Homo sapiens: one gene and its partners. The protein of the gene in region 1 interacts with the protein of each later gene in a pairwise test. Each region holds a gene or a part of one and is shown on either strand. Other genes may lie near its edges. The genes, in order: HNF1B, ATF1 and CRX.

Region 1 (3,656 bases):
AGGGCAGATAAGGAGACGCCAGTGAGATTCTATGGCCTGTCATTAGGGATGGGCTTCCCAGCTATCAAATGTTTGCTCACATAATAAAATGGTGGCAGAGCCCAAAATGTTGTCAAAAGAACTAGAGTTATTTGCCTCCTTCAGAGTCTAAACACAAACATCTGATAAGGGGTGCACTGTGGTCCCTTAGAACTGGAGGCCCAGCACACGCAGCCCCACGGGGGCCTGGCCCAGAAGATCTCTGAGAGACCGCGGGGCCCTCCGTCTGAAAGGTGTGGTAGCTGTGGCAAATGTGAAGGACATCCTTATTCTAAGAGGATTTGTTACATAATGGTAAGAGCTAACATTTATCGACATCCTACTGTGTGCCAGGCACCATACCAAGGGCTTCACAAGCATCACTGCCTCGAGTTCTTACGTCGACCCTTTGAAGTAGGTGATTATCGTGAATTCATTTAACACGTTTGAGTGCCTACTGTGTACTTGGCACTTTTTTAGACACTGGAGATGCAGCTGTAAACAACACCCTGCCCACTTCTTCACAGGCTTTACCTCCTAGTGAAGGCTTTGAATAATAAACAAGTAAACAAATGCGTGCACACACACACACACACACACACACACACACACACACTACAACTTTAGGTGGAGATGAGCACTCCATAGAAAAATAAGCATAGAGGTTAGGGCAGCTTGAGGAAAAAGAGATTAACTTAGATATGGGAATCAGGCGAGGCCTCTTTGAAATGGTAACATTTGAGCTGAATGAAGTGAAGGGGCAAGCATGTAAAAATGCACAGAAAAAAAGAGCTCCAGGCAGACACCACAAATGCAGGAGTCCTGGAGTGGGATCTCTTCAGCCCTGGCACAGCTAAAGCTGAGCGGGTGATGGAGGGAGGAAGGAGGTGAGAACGGCGACACTGGCAGGGGCATAATCACATAGGGTCCTGTATGTCTCTGTTTTAGTTTGGTTGTGATGGAAAGCTATTGGAGAGTTTTGACAGGGGATTGACATGCTTGATGTCTCTTTGTAAGAGATCACTCTGGCGAACAGCCCCCAGTGGGGCAAGGGTGGAAGTGGGAGACAGGCAAGGGCCACCTAAGGAGATCAGGGAGAGACAAGGGGGCCTGGGCTGGGACTAGGGCAGTCCTGATGGGAGTGTGAGAAGAGGTCAGATTTAGGATGTATTCTGAGGGTCCCCTAGTAGAACTTATTGAGAGACTGATGTGATGTGGAGAGAAGAATCAGGGATACTCTCAGCTCTCTCACTTGAACAACTGGTACCAGTTTTGGAAATGGAGAAGCCCATGGGGGAAGCAATTTTGATAGGATGAAATAGGGCAAAATGAAGAGTTCCTATTTTAGGCACGTTGAATTCAAGAGGCTTATTAGATATTTTAGACATGCGTCTGTCCCTGCCGAAGCAGCACTGGATCTGTGAGTGAGCACTCAGTAGGGAAGACCGGACTGTACACAGAATTACAGGAACCATCGGCGTGTACACTTGACCTAAAGCCATGGGACTGGAGGAGATCACCCAGGAGTGAGCACAGATGAGAAGAGGCCAAAGAATGAGGCCCGGGGCCCTCCAACACATAAATATTGGGAAGATGAGTTGCCAGCTGAGGAGATGAGAAGTGGCCAGTGCCGTAGAAGAACCAGGAATGGTAGTATCCCAAACTCCCATGGAAAAAAGGAGGGAGAGATCAGCTGTGTCAGAGACAGAGGTTGAAAAGTAACCATTGGTTTCAGCAGCATGGAGGGGATCGTGAGCTGGACACAGTGAGGCGTGAGGATAAAGGCCAGTCTGCAGTGATCTCAAGAGAGAATTGAGGGTGAGGAAGTGGAGACAGTGAGGACAGATAAGTCACTTCTATGACCATGAACTTATGTGAGATTCATTGTGGCTCCATTAATTAAAAGTCATGATTATAATTCCGGTTTTACAGATGAGGGAAGTGTGGCCTGGAGAGGTGATAAGTAAGTTGGCCGGGGTCTCACAACAGCAAGGCTTGTGCTCTTCACCCCTATGTAAGAGCACTTCTTTCAACCCCCTCAACACGGGGAAATAAATGCCCTTTGCCACGTAAGACCCTTTTCCCAAACTCAGAGCCGCTCAGGGGTGCTAGCAGGGGAAGCCAAGAGTGACCCAGCTTCCATGGGCTGGGTGTTTCCTTTGGGACATGCGCTGAGTGAAGTATTTTACAGGTCTTCGTGCAGTTAGTCCTTTCAGTGATCCCATGAAAGAGGTATCATTATCTTCATTTTACAGGTGAGCAAACAGAGGCTCAAAGAGGCTAAGACATTTCTCTGAGGTCACACAGGTAGAAAGTGGTAGAATGTTGAGCCCAGATCTGCCTAACTCCCAGGTCGATGCTCCCAACCATCAGAACACTCTGCTTCCTCACCCAGTGAAGAAGCTGGGAGAGGAATAGCCGAAGGGGATAGATGATGAGGCCACCCACCTGCCCCCTTGTCAGTGCCCTGACTAGTTACTGCTCTGGGGGCCCTCTCTTCACCTTCCCATAAACTAGGAAGTCAAGCAGCGGGGAGAGAACACTGTGGAAACAGGAGTTGGCTCACAACCTGCCTGCACTTGTTCTAACTGAGGTCAGTGGTTGCTGTGGTCTTGTTTCCAGACTAGCGGGGCATTGTTGAACTCAGGCACAAACCCACTCAGAGATAACTTGCCAGCACCCAAGAGTTGAGAAGGAGGGAGACGTATGTGCTCTGGAAGGGACAGATGGCAGTAGATGCAGAAGGATTCTTGGCGCGAGAAGTCCCAGCCTGGGGTTCCTGACCTGTAATCCCCAAGGCCCTTGGGGCATGTCTGCCTTGACAACAGGAAGTACTGGGATCAGACAGATACAAGTACAAATCCTGGCTTTAGCCTTATACCTGCATAACCTTGGGTTGTTATTATGGGTGCTTAAAAGTGGATATTGGAAGATGAACGTTGTTTAATGAGTTTGGAGTGAGAAAGCCAGTCTGGAAGTCCAGCTCTGGAATTTATGATCTGTTTGAACTTGACCAGATCCATACCCATCTTTGAACCTCAGTTTTCTGCTTTGTAAATCAGGTATAAAAATAACGACCTTGCAGAATGGGTAAGAGGGTTCTCCAGGAAATGTAAGCTAGAAAAGCATCTGGGGTGCTGCTTGGAAAATGGAGGCATCAAAAAACACGGGTTCTGCATTCATTCGTTCGTTCGTTCATTCATTCTTTGTTATTTACTGAACATCTAATATAGCCCAGGCATTTGGCTAAGCCCAAAGGGTATGGGTGCTTTGACAGGCCCTGAACTATTTGCTTTTTTCCTGGGAAATAGGTGAGCAGGGAGTCTGTGTATCAGCAGGAGAATGGGAAACAGGGATCCGGAGCCCAGGCCCAAGAGGTAGGATGTGCTTGAGAGATGGTAGTAATCCTGAGACATTTTCTTCTCCCAGCCTCCTTTGACTGCATGTAGACCAAGCACTGAATTGGATATTGAAAGAGTCACTAGGCCGGGTCCAGTGGCTCACACCTGTAATTCCAGCACTTTGGGAGGCAGAGGCGGGCAGATCACGAGGTCAGGAATTTGAGAGCAGCCTGGCCAACATAGTGAAACCCCGTCTCTACTAAAAATACAAAAAATTAGCCAGGTGTGGTGGCCTGT
Region 2 (2,937 bases), on another chromosome or scaffold:
GCTGGGATTACAGGCATGAGCCACCATGCCTGGCCAATACTTCCGATTTCTATATGTATATAAACTTACATATGACTTCACAGAAATGTTTTAAGAGGACATGCACAGAACTGAGTATTTGCTCAAGCATTGTTTGTAATTTGAACTTAAATAAAAGAAGTCATGTGTCAGAAGTTAACCAGAGGACCCATAATTTCACTCTTTGGTATTTATTCAAGAGAAATGAAACCTTTCTACAAAAAGACTGGCACAAAAACATGCCTATGCAGCTAACCCTAGAAACATCGCAAGAGACTGGATACACAAATGGTGGTTATATTCATACAGTGAACTATGTCCAGCAGTGTGAAGGAACAAACCCCCATGCAGCAACATGGATGAACCTCAGATGGGCTGAGTGAAGGGACACCAGAGTACATAGTGTATGACACTCTTACATGAGGTTCTAGAATAGGAAAAAAACTAATCTCTGGTGATAAAAATCAAAACGATAGTTGCTTGGAAGGGGGCTGACCAGGAAGGGGCATGAGGGAACTTTCTGGGACAGTGGGAATGTTCTGTTGTCTTGACAGAGGTGTGGGTTATACAGGTATACACAATTGCCAAAACTGACTGAATTCTACACTTAAGATCTATGTATTCTCTGTGTGTAGATGATACTTTAAAGAGAAAAAAAGGTGACCACGGAAAATTACTGAAGAACATTTACCATTTAAAGAATGTGAAGTTTTTTCTAACATTGTTTTTTTAATGCTCATATTTAGAGAAGCTGCTCGAGAATGTCGCAGAAAGAAGAAAGAATATGTGAAATGCCTGGAAAACCGAGTTGCAGTCCTGGAAAATCAAAATAAAACTCTAATAGAAGAGTTAAAAACTTTGAAGGATCTTTATTCCAATAAAAGTGTTTGATTCCTAAGAAAGAAAATATTTTTGTGGACATGCATAAAAATTAAATGGATTTCCTAGTGGAGTTTTATAAATTAAAAGGTCAAAACTGAAGCTTTTTATTTAGGCTTTTCCAAATCAAGGATAAATATCTTACGCACGATATCTAGTGACAGAGGAGAAAGTGGAAAATGACCTCAAGGAAGCTACGGGCACAACTGGAAGCTTTGTAGAAATTAAACATATTCAAGGAGCAAGAAATGAACTTTCAGCAGTCTAAATTTTCTAAATAACCAATAGTTGCCAATCTAAAATGGCAGAGAAGATGAAATTTGATAAACTGAATTTTTTTTAAAAATCCATTTACCCTACAGGTTTGCATTTGTTTGCTGAAATTTACCTTTTTTTAGTTATATATATGTGTGTGTGTGTGTGTAATTTCTGCCAATAAATTCTAAATTACAAAGGTAAGAGAAAACCTAGTACATTACTAAATATATAAAGTATATGTTCTGATTATGTATACTTGTTCTAGTGTCAAGTCTTTTTAAGTGGGTTTTTAAAAGTTTGTTATTGGACTTGAATGGATTTTTGAGACTAGGTTAATTATTTTTGAGGTCTTATCCTAAAAGGCATCTAAGGTACATGAATGGAGTATGGTGATTTTATAACATTTTTTATCAGAATGGAAAAAGAACTGTTTAAAAGTTTGATACTTTTAAATAGTTGGTTTTTTTGCTTACTCTGGTAATGATTTTCTACAAATACATAATAAATTGTTTTTTTGAGTCTATATTCTGTATGCAGTTGAATATCCATTACTTATTCTGCTGTGCTTTAATAGAATGGAATGTTTACAGGCCCTTAAAATATTATTTTTAAAAAACCTTCTGAAGATACATACCAAAGTTTTTCCAAGAAGATTTTATAATCAATTTAATAATGTAAGGTTTATCAGATTCTATAATAGTATAGTTATTAAGGCAATTTTATGTTAGAGACTATTTTGTAATGTAGTGAGTGGTACCTTTATAAGAAAAGTGACTGCCAATATATTTTTATAGCTGATCTTTATAAATTCTAATGTTGAGTTTTTAATGATTATTTTAAATGTTTATATAGTTTAGTAAAATTTGCATCTCAAAGTATCATTTTTATATTATGGGACGTTTTCAGATTGGCTAATATTTGCATTGTAAATTTTGTATGCAGTTTATCTAAAATTCAAAAATACTGTCAGTACACCAGCGTTTAACATCTATATTCCAATTTGTATACAGTTTAAAATTGTACTGCAAAACTATTGTGTGCTCTTACACAGTATGCATCATATTGTTGTCTGTGAAATTAAAGGACATTTGATAGTCTACTGAATGTAAAATATAATGCTTGGTATATGAATGATAAGCTTGCTCCTGGCCATGCTGTTAATTATCCTAATGCTACGTAGAAATCTTCACTTAACTGATACATTTGTGTTTGACCCTCCTGATGAAATTTCTCATTAGAAGGGTCTTTTAAAATGGGACTCTGTTGACTTGGCAGCACTTTATGAAAAGAAAAAAAAGTTTGATCGCCAGGGGGATTACTTATATCACTTACTACCTTGTGTAAAGCCAGAATCTCAAACTGGTGGCCCGTTAGGCCTAAGAATATGAGGAGGTATGAGGTCACTGGGTTATGTCAAAAGACTTTTTCAACAGATGATAATATATTATTGGGTAGACACCGTGCTTGTTTACAACAGAGGTAGCCTAGCTCTTAGTGCCTTAACAGCTGGACATCTGCAAATATTTGTAAACTCTGCTGCCTTCAGACTTCTGGTGTAGGGCCTTGCTAACTAGACCCAGTTACTTACTCTAGCTGTATGAAACAGGTCAGGGCAAACCATTAATGGTTCCATAAATGCATAACAAATTATTTTCCTGGGTGTTTTTCTAATTGGAATCCAATGTGGGGCTTATCAAATTTTTAAGTGATTATAGTCCAAACATGAAATTAGACTTCCAAAATGCAAAAGACTAATCAAATTATTTCCTTAGTTCAACTTGC
Region 3 (3,656 bases), on another chromosome or scaffold:
TGAGTTCAGGGACTGGTAATATCTCGGTTCCTGCCATGTCCCCAGCACCCCCAATAAATATTTGAAACATAAGAAAAAGAATTAAAAATGGATGGTGTTTATTGTGAGCTCCCACTCTTCCGTTCCTCTCACTGTCCTTTCCTTCTCATCCCTCACATGAGGAGGGGGACAGATTCTGTTTATTTTAAGTTGAGATTCTACTGTTCATTCAGTAAATATTTTTTGAATGCCTTCCCTGCTCTAGGAACTAGGAATATAGGAAGAAATAAGACCGCAGCTTCTCTGTTCTCATAGAATTGAACTTCTTGGTTCCGTTCCTAGAGAAACCAATAACAAACAAGGAAAAAAAAATTTTTTTTTTTTGAGATGAAGTCTCACTCTTGTCCCCCAGGCTGGAGTGCAATGGCTTGATCTCGGCTCACTGCAGCCTCTGCCTCCCAGGGTCAAGTGATTCTCCTGCCTCAGCCTCCCAAGTAGCTGAGACTACAGGGGCCTGCCACCATACCTGGCTAATTTTTGTATTTTTAGTAGAGATGGGGTTTCACCATGTTGGCCAGGCTGGTCTCGAACTCCTGACCTCATGTGATCCACCCGCCTCGGCCTCCCAAAGTGCTGGGATTACAGGCGTGAGCCACCACGCCCTGCCTTTTTTTTTTTTTTTTTTTTTTTTTTTTTTTTTTTAATAAAGATGCCATGGCCAGGAGCAGGGGCTCTTGCCTGTAATCCCAACACTTTGGGAGGCTGAGTTATGAGGATCACTTGAGGTCAGGAGTTTGAGATCAGCCTGGCCAACATGGTGAAACCCCATCTCTACTAAAATACAAAAATTAGCCAGACATGATGATGGGTGCCTGTAATCCCAACTACTTGAGAATCGCTTGAACCCGGGAGGCGGAGGTTGCAGTGAGCTGAGATGGCACTACTGCACTCCAGCCTGGGCAACAGAGCAAGACTCTGTCAAAAAAAAAAAAAAAAAAAAAGCCTTCAGAAAGTTTCAAGAACTCCCAGGAAAATAAAACAGGTTGTTATGAGAGTGAAGGCATTTGGGGTGGGTGAGGCATCTAGGAATTTGTGTGGATCTGGAATAGAGATTTCCAGGCAAAAAAAAAAAATTAAAAAAACAGCAGGTGCAAAGGCTTGGAGGCTGGAATCTCACACCGTCACCCTGAGCAAGACAGGGTCTCCAACTTGGTCTTGTTGGAGAAGAAACAAGGCACCCTGTGTGACCATAGCAGATTGATCATGGAGAAAAGCAGAAAGAACAAGTAAAACCTGGTAGGAATGTCACGAGAAGGCTCAGTGCTGACAATAAAATCAAAAGCAGCTACATTAAATCCCCAAAATCAAACTGCCTCCAAGGTAACTCCCAATAATCCTTACCCCCTGATATTCATGCCCTGTGTAGTCCCTACTAACAAGCTGGCTGACGTGTGTAACCAACAGGATATTGCAGAAATGACAGAGCGTGGCTTCCAAGGCTAGCTCTAAGGAAAGCCAGCCGCCATGTTGTGAGGATGCTCAAGCCATCCCACGGAGAGGTCTATGTGGCAAAGAAATGAGGCCTCCTGCCAACAGCTATGAGAGTAAGCTACCATGGAGGTTAGTTCCCCAGCCTCAGCCAAGCCATTAAGTGACTTCAGTCCTGGCCGACATCTGACCACAACCACATGGAACACCCTGAGCCGGAATAATCCAGTTAAGCCACTCTTGGATTCCTGTCCCTTGGAAACTATAAGAGATCAGAAATGTTTATTGTTTGAAGCTGCTCAATTTTAGGATAAGTGTTACCCAGCAATAGTTAACTAATACACAAGCCTTCTCTATACAGGTAGTCATTAAATCCCCAGCACAACCTTGGGAGGTAGAGACTGTATTACTATGATGCTTACATTTTGGTTTTGGTTTTGGTCTTAGGGACAGCATGTCACTCTGTCACCCAGGCTGGAGTGCAGTGGCACAATCATAGCTCACTGCAGCCTCGACCTCCTGAGCTCAAGCCATCCTCCCACCTCAGCCTCCCAAGTAGCTGGGACTACAGGTGTGCCACAACGCCTAGCTAATTTTTTAAATTTTTGTGTAGAGAGAGGTGTCTTGCCATGTTGCCCAGGCTGGTCTTGAACTCCTGGCCTGAGCAGATCCTCCTGCCTCAGCCTCCCAAATTGCTGAGATTACAGGCATGAGACACTGCTTTTGCCTGATGCTTACAGTTTAGAGAACATCTTCAGGCTCGAAAGTGTGACTTACCCGGGATCACACACAGGCTGGCAGTGGAGAATCCAGGATTTCAAGGCTAGAGTAATTCCTGAAGGTCCTATTCCCCCAGCCCCCTAACCTGGGTTCCCTCTGTCCTCTCCCACTTCTCCAAAAACCAATAATGTTAAATATGAACCTCCAGAGAGTGGAGACAAGGAAACTGGTGAACCTGCCCCACTGGGGACCATTTGCAGGGCCTGGAACAAAAGCACACACTTTCATTGTCTTCGCCGTCAAATCTGAGTCAGATTGCCTGGCTAAGCAGTTAACCTTCCAGGAAAGCCAAGAAAGCTCACATTTACGATCACCACTTTCTGGGTTTTTGTTTTTGTTGTTGTTGTTATTTTGAGACGGAGTCTCTGTCACCCATGCTGGAGTGCAGTGGCGCAATCTTGGCTCACTGCAACCTCCACCTCCCGGATTCAAGCGATTCTTCTGCCTCAGCCTCCCAACCTGGGACAACAGGCATGTGCCATCATGCCTGGCTAATTTTTTTTTTGTATTTTTAGTAGAGATTGGGTTTCTCCATGTTGGCCAGGCTGGTCTCAAACTTCTGACCTCAGGTGATCCGCCCACCTCGGCCTCCCTAAGTGCTGGAATCACAGGCGTGGGCCACAGTGCCTGGCCAGGATCATCCCTTTTAACGGATAGGGGAGAGGAGGCTCAGCAGGAGGAAAGTGTGGGCCCCAGATCAAACAGCTGATAATAATGATAAAGTGCTGCCTAGACAAGATGTCAGCAGAGAATAATAACAATAATAATATTGAACATCCACTGAAATCTTTCCCTGGGTTTGGCAGCAACCTGAGGCAGCTGATGACAGAAGGGCCTCCAGTGAGGGCTGGGCGTGGTGGCACGTACCTGTAATCCCAGCACTCTGGGAGGCTGAGGTGGGAAGATCGCTTGAGCCCAGGAGTTGGAGGCTGCAGTGAGCTATGATCCAGCCACTGCACTCCAGCCTGGGCAACAGAGCAAGATCCTCTCTCAAAACAAAACAAAACAGGCCAGGCCAGTGGCTCAGCACTTTGGGAGGCTGAAGCAGGCGGATCACTTGAGGTCAGGAGTTCAAGGCCAGCCTGGCCAACGTGGTGAAACCCCGTCTACTAAAAATACAAAAATTAGCCGGGCATGGTGTTGTCCCAGCTTCTGGGGAGGCTGAGGTACAAAAATCTCTTGAACTCGGGAGGCGGAGGCTGCAGTGAGCTGAGATTGCACCACTGCATTCCAACCTGGGCGACAGAGCACGACTCCATCCCAAAAAAAAAAAAAAAAAATCAATCAATCGAAAGAGGACCTGTCTCCTGGGGAGGAAAAAAAAAAAAGAATGTCCAGGAATTCATCACTCGGCAGACACTTGGCCCAGGCTTTATATACAAGATCTCACAATGACAACAATTTCCAGA

What was found.
Region 2: the proteins of HNF1B (region 1) and ATF1 interact in a two-hybrid assay, tested with the Homo sapiens proteins (one study listed by BioGRID).
Region 3: the proteins of HNF1B (region 1) and CRX interact in binary tests that used the Homo sapiens proteins (3 or more experiments, as listed by UniProt).

The regions. Positions count from the first base shown.
Region 1 is NC_000017.11:37,689,407-37,693,062, forward strand, and holds part of HNF1B (hepatocyte nuclear factor 1-beta), read right to left. Parts: intron 1-3,656. UniProt on the Homo sapiens protein: Transcription factor that binds to the inverted palindrome 5'-GTTAATNATTAAC-3'. Binds to the FPC element in the cAMP regulatory unit of the PLAU gene. Transcriptional activity is increased by coactivator PCBD1.
Region 2 is NC_000012.12:50,818,871-50,821,807, forward strand, and holds the end of ATF1 (cyclic AMP-dependent transcription factor ATF-1), read left to right. Parts: intron 1-764; coding exon 765-909; 3' UTR 910-2,292; downstream 2,293-2,937.
Region 3 is NC_000019.10:47,824,862-47,828,517, reverse strand, and holds part of CRX (cone-rod homeobox protein), read right to left. Parts: intron 1-3,656. UniProt on the Homo sapiens protein: Transcription factor that binds and transactivates the sequence 5'-TAATC[CA]-3' which is found upstream of several photoreceptor-specific genes, including the opsin genes.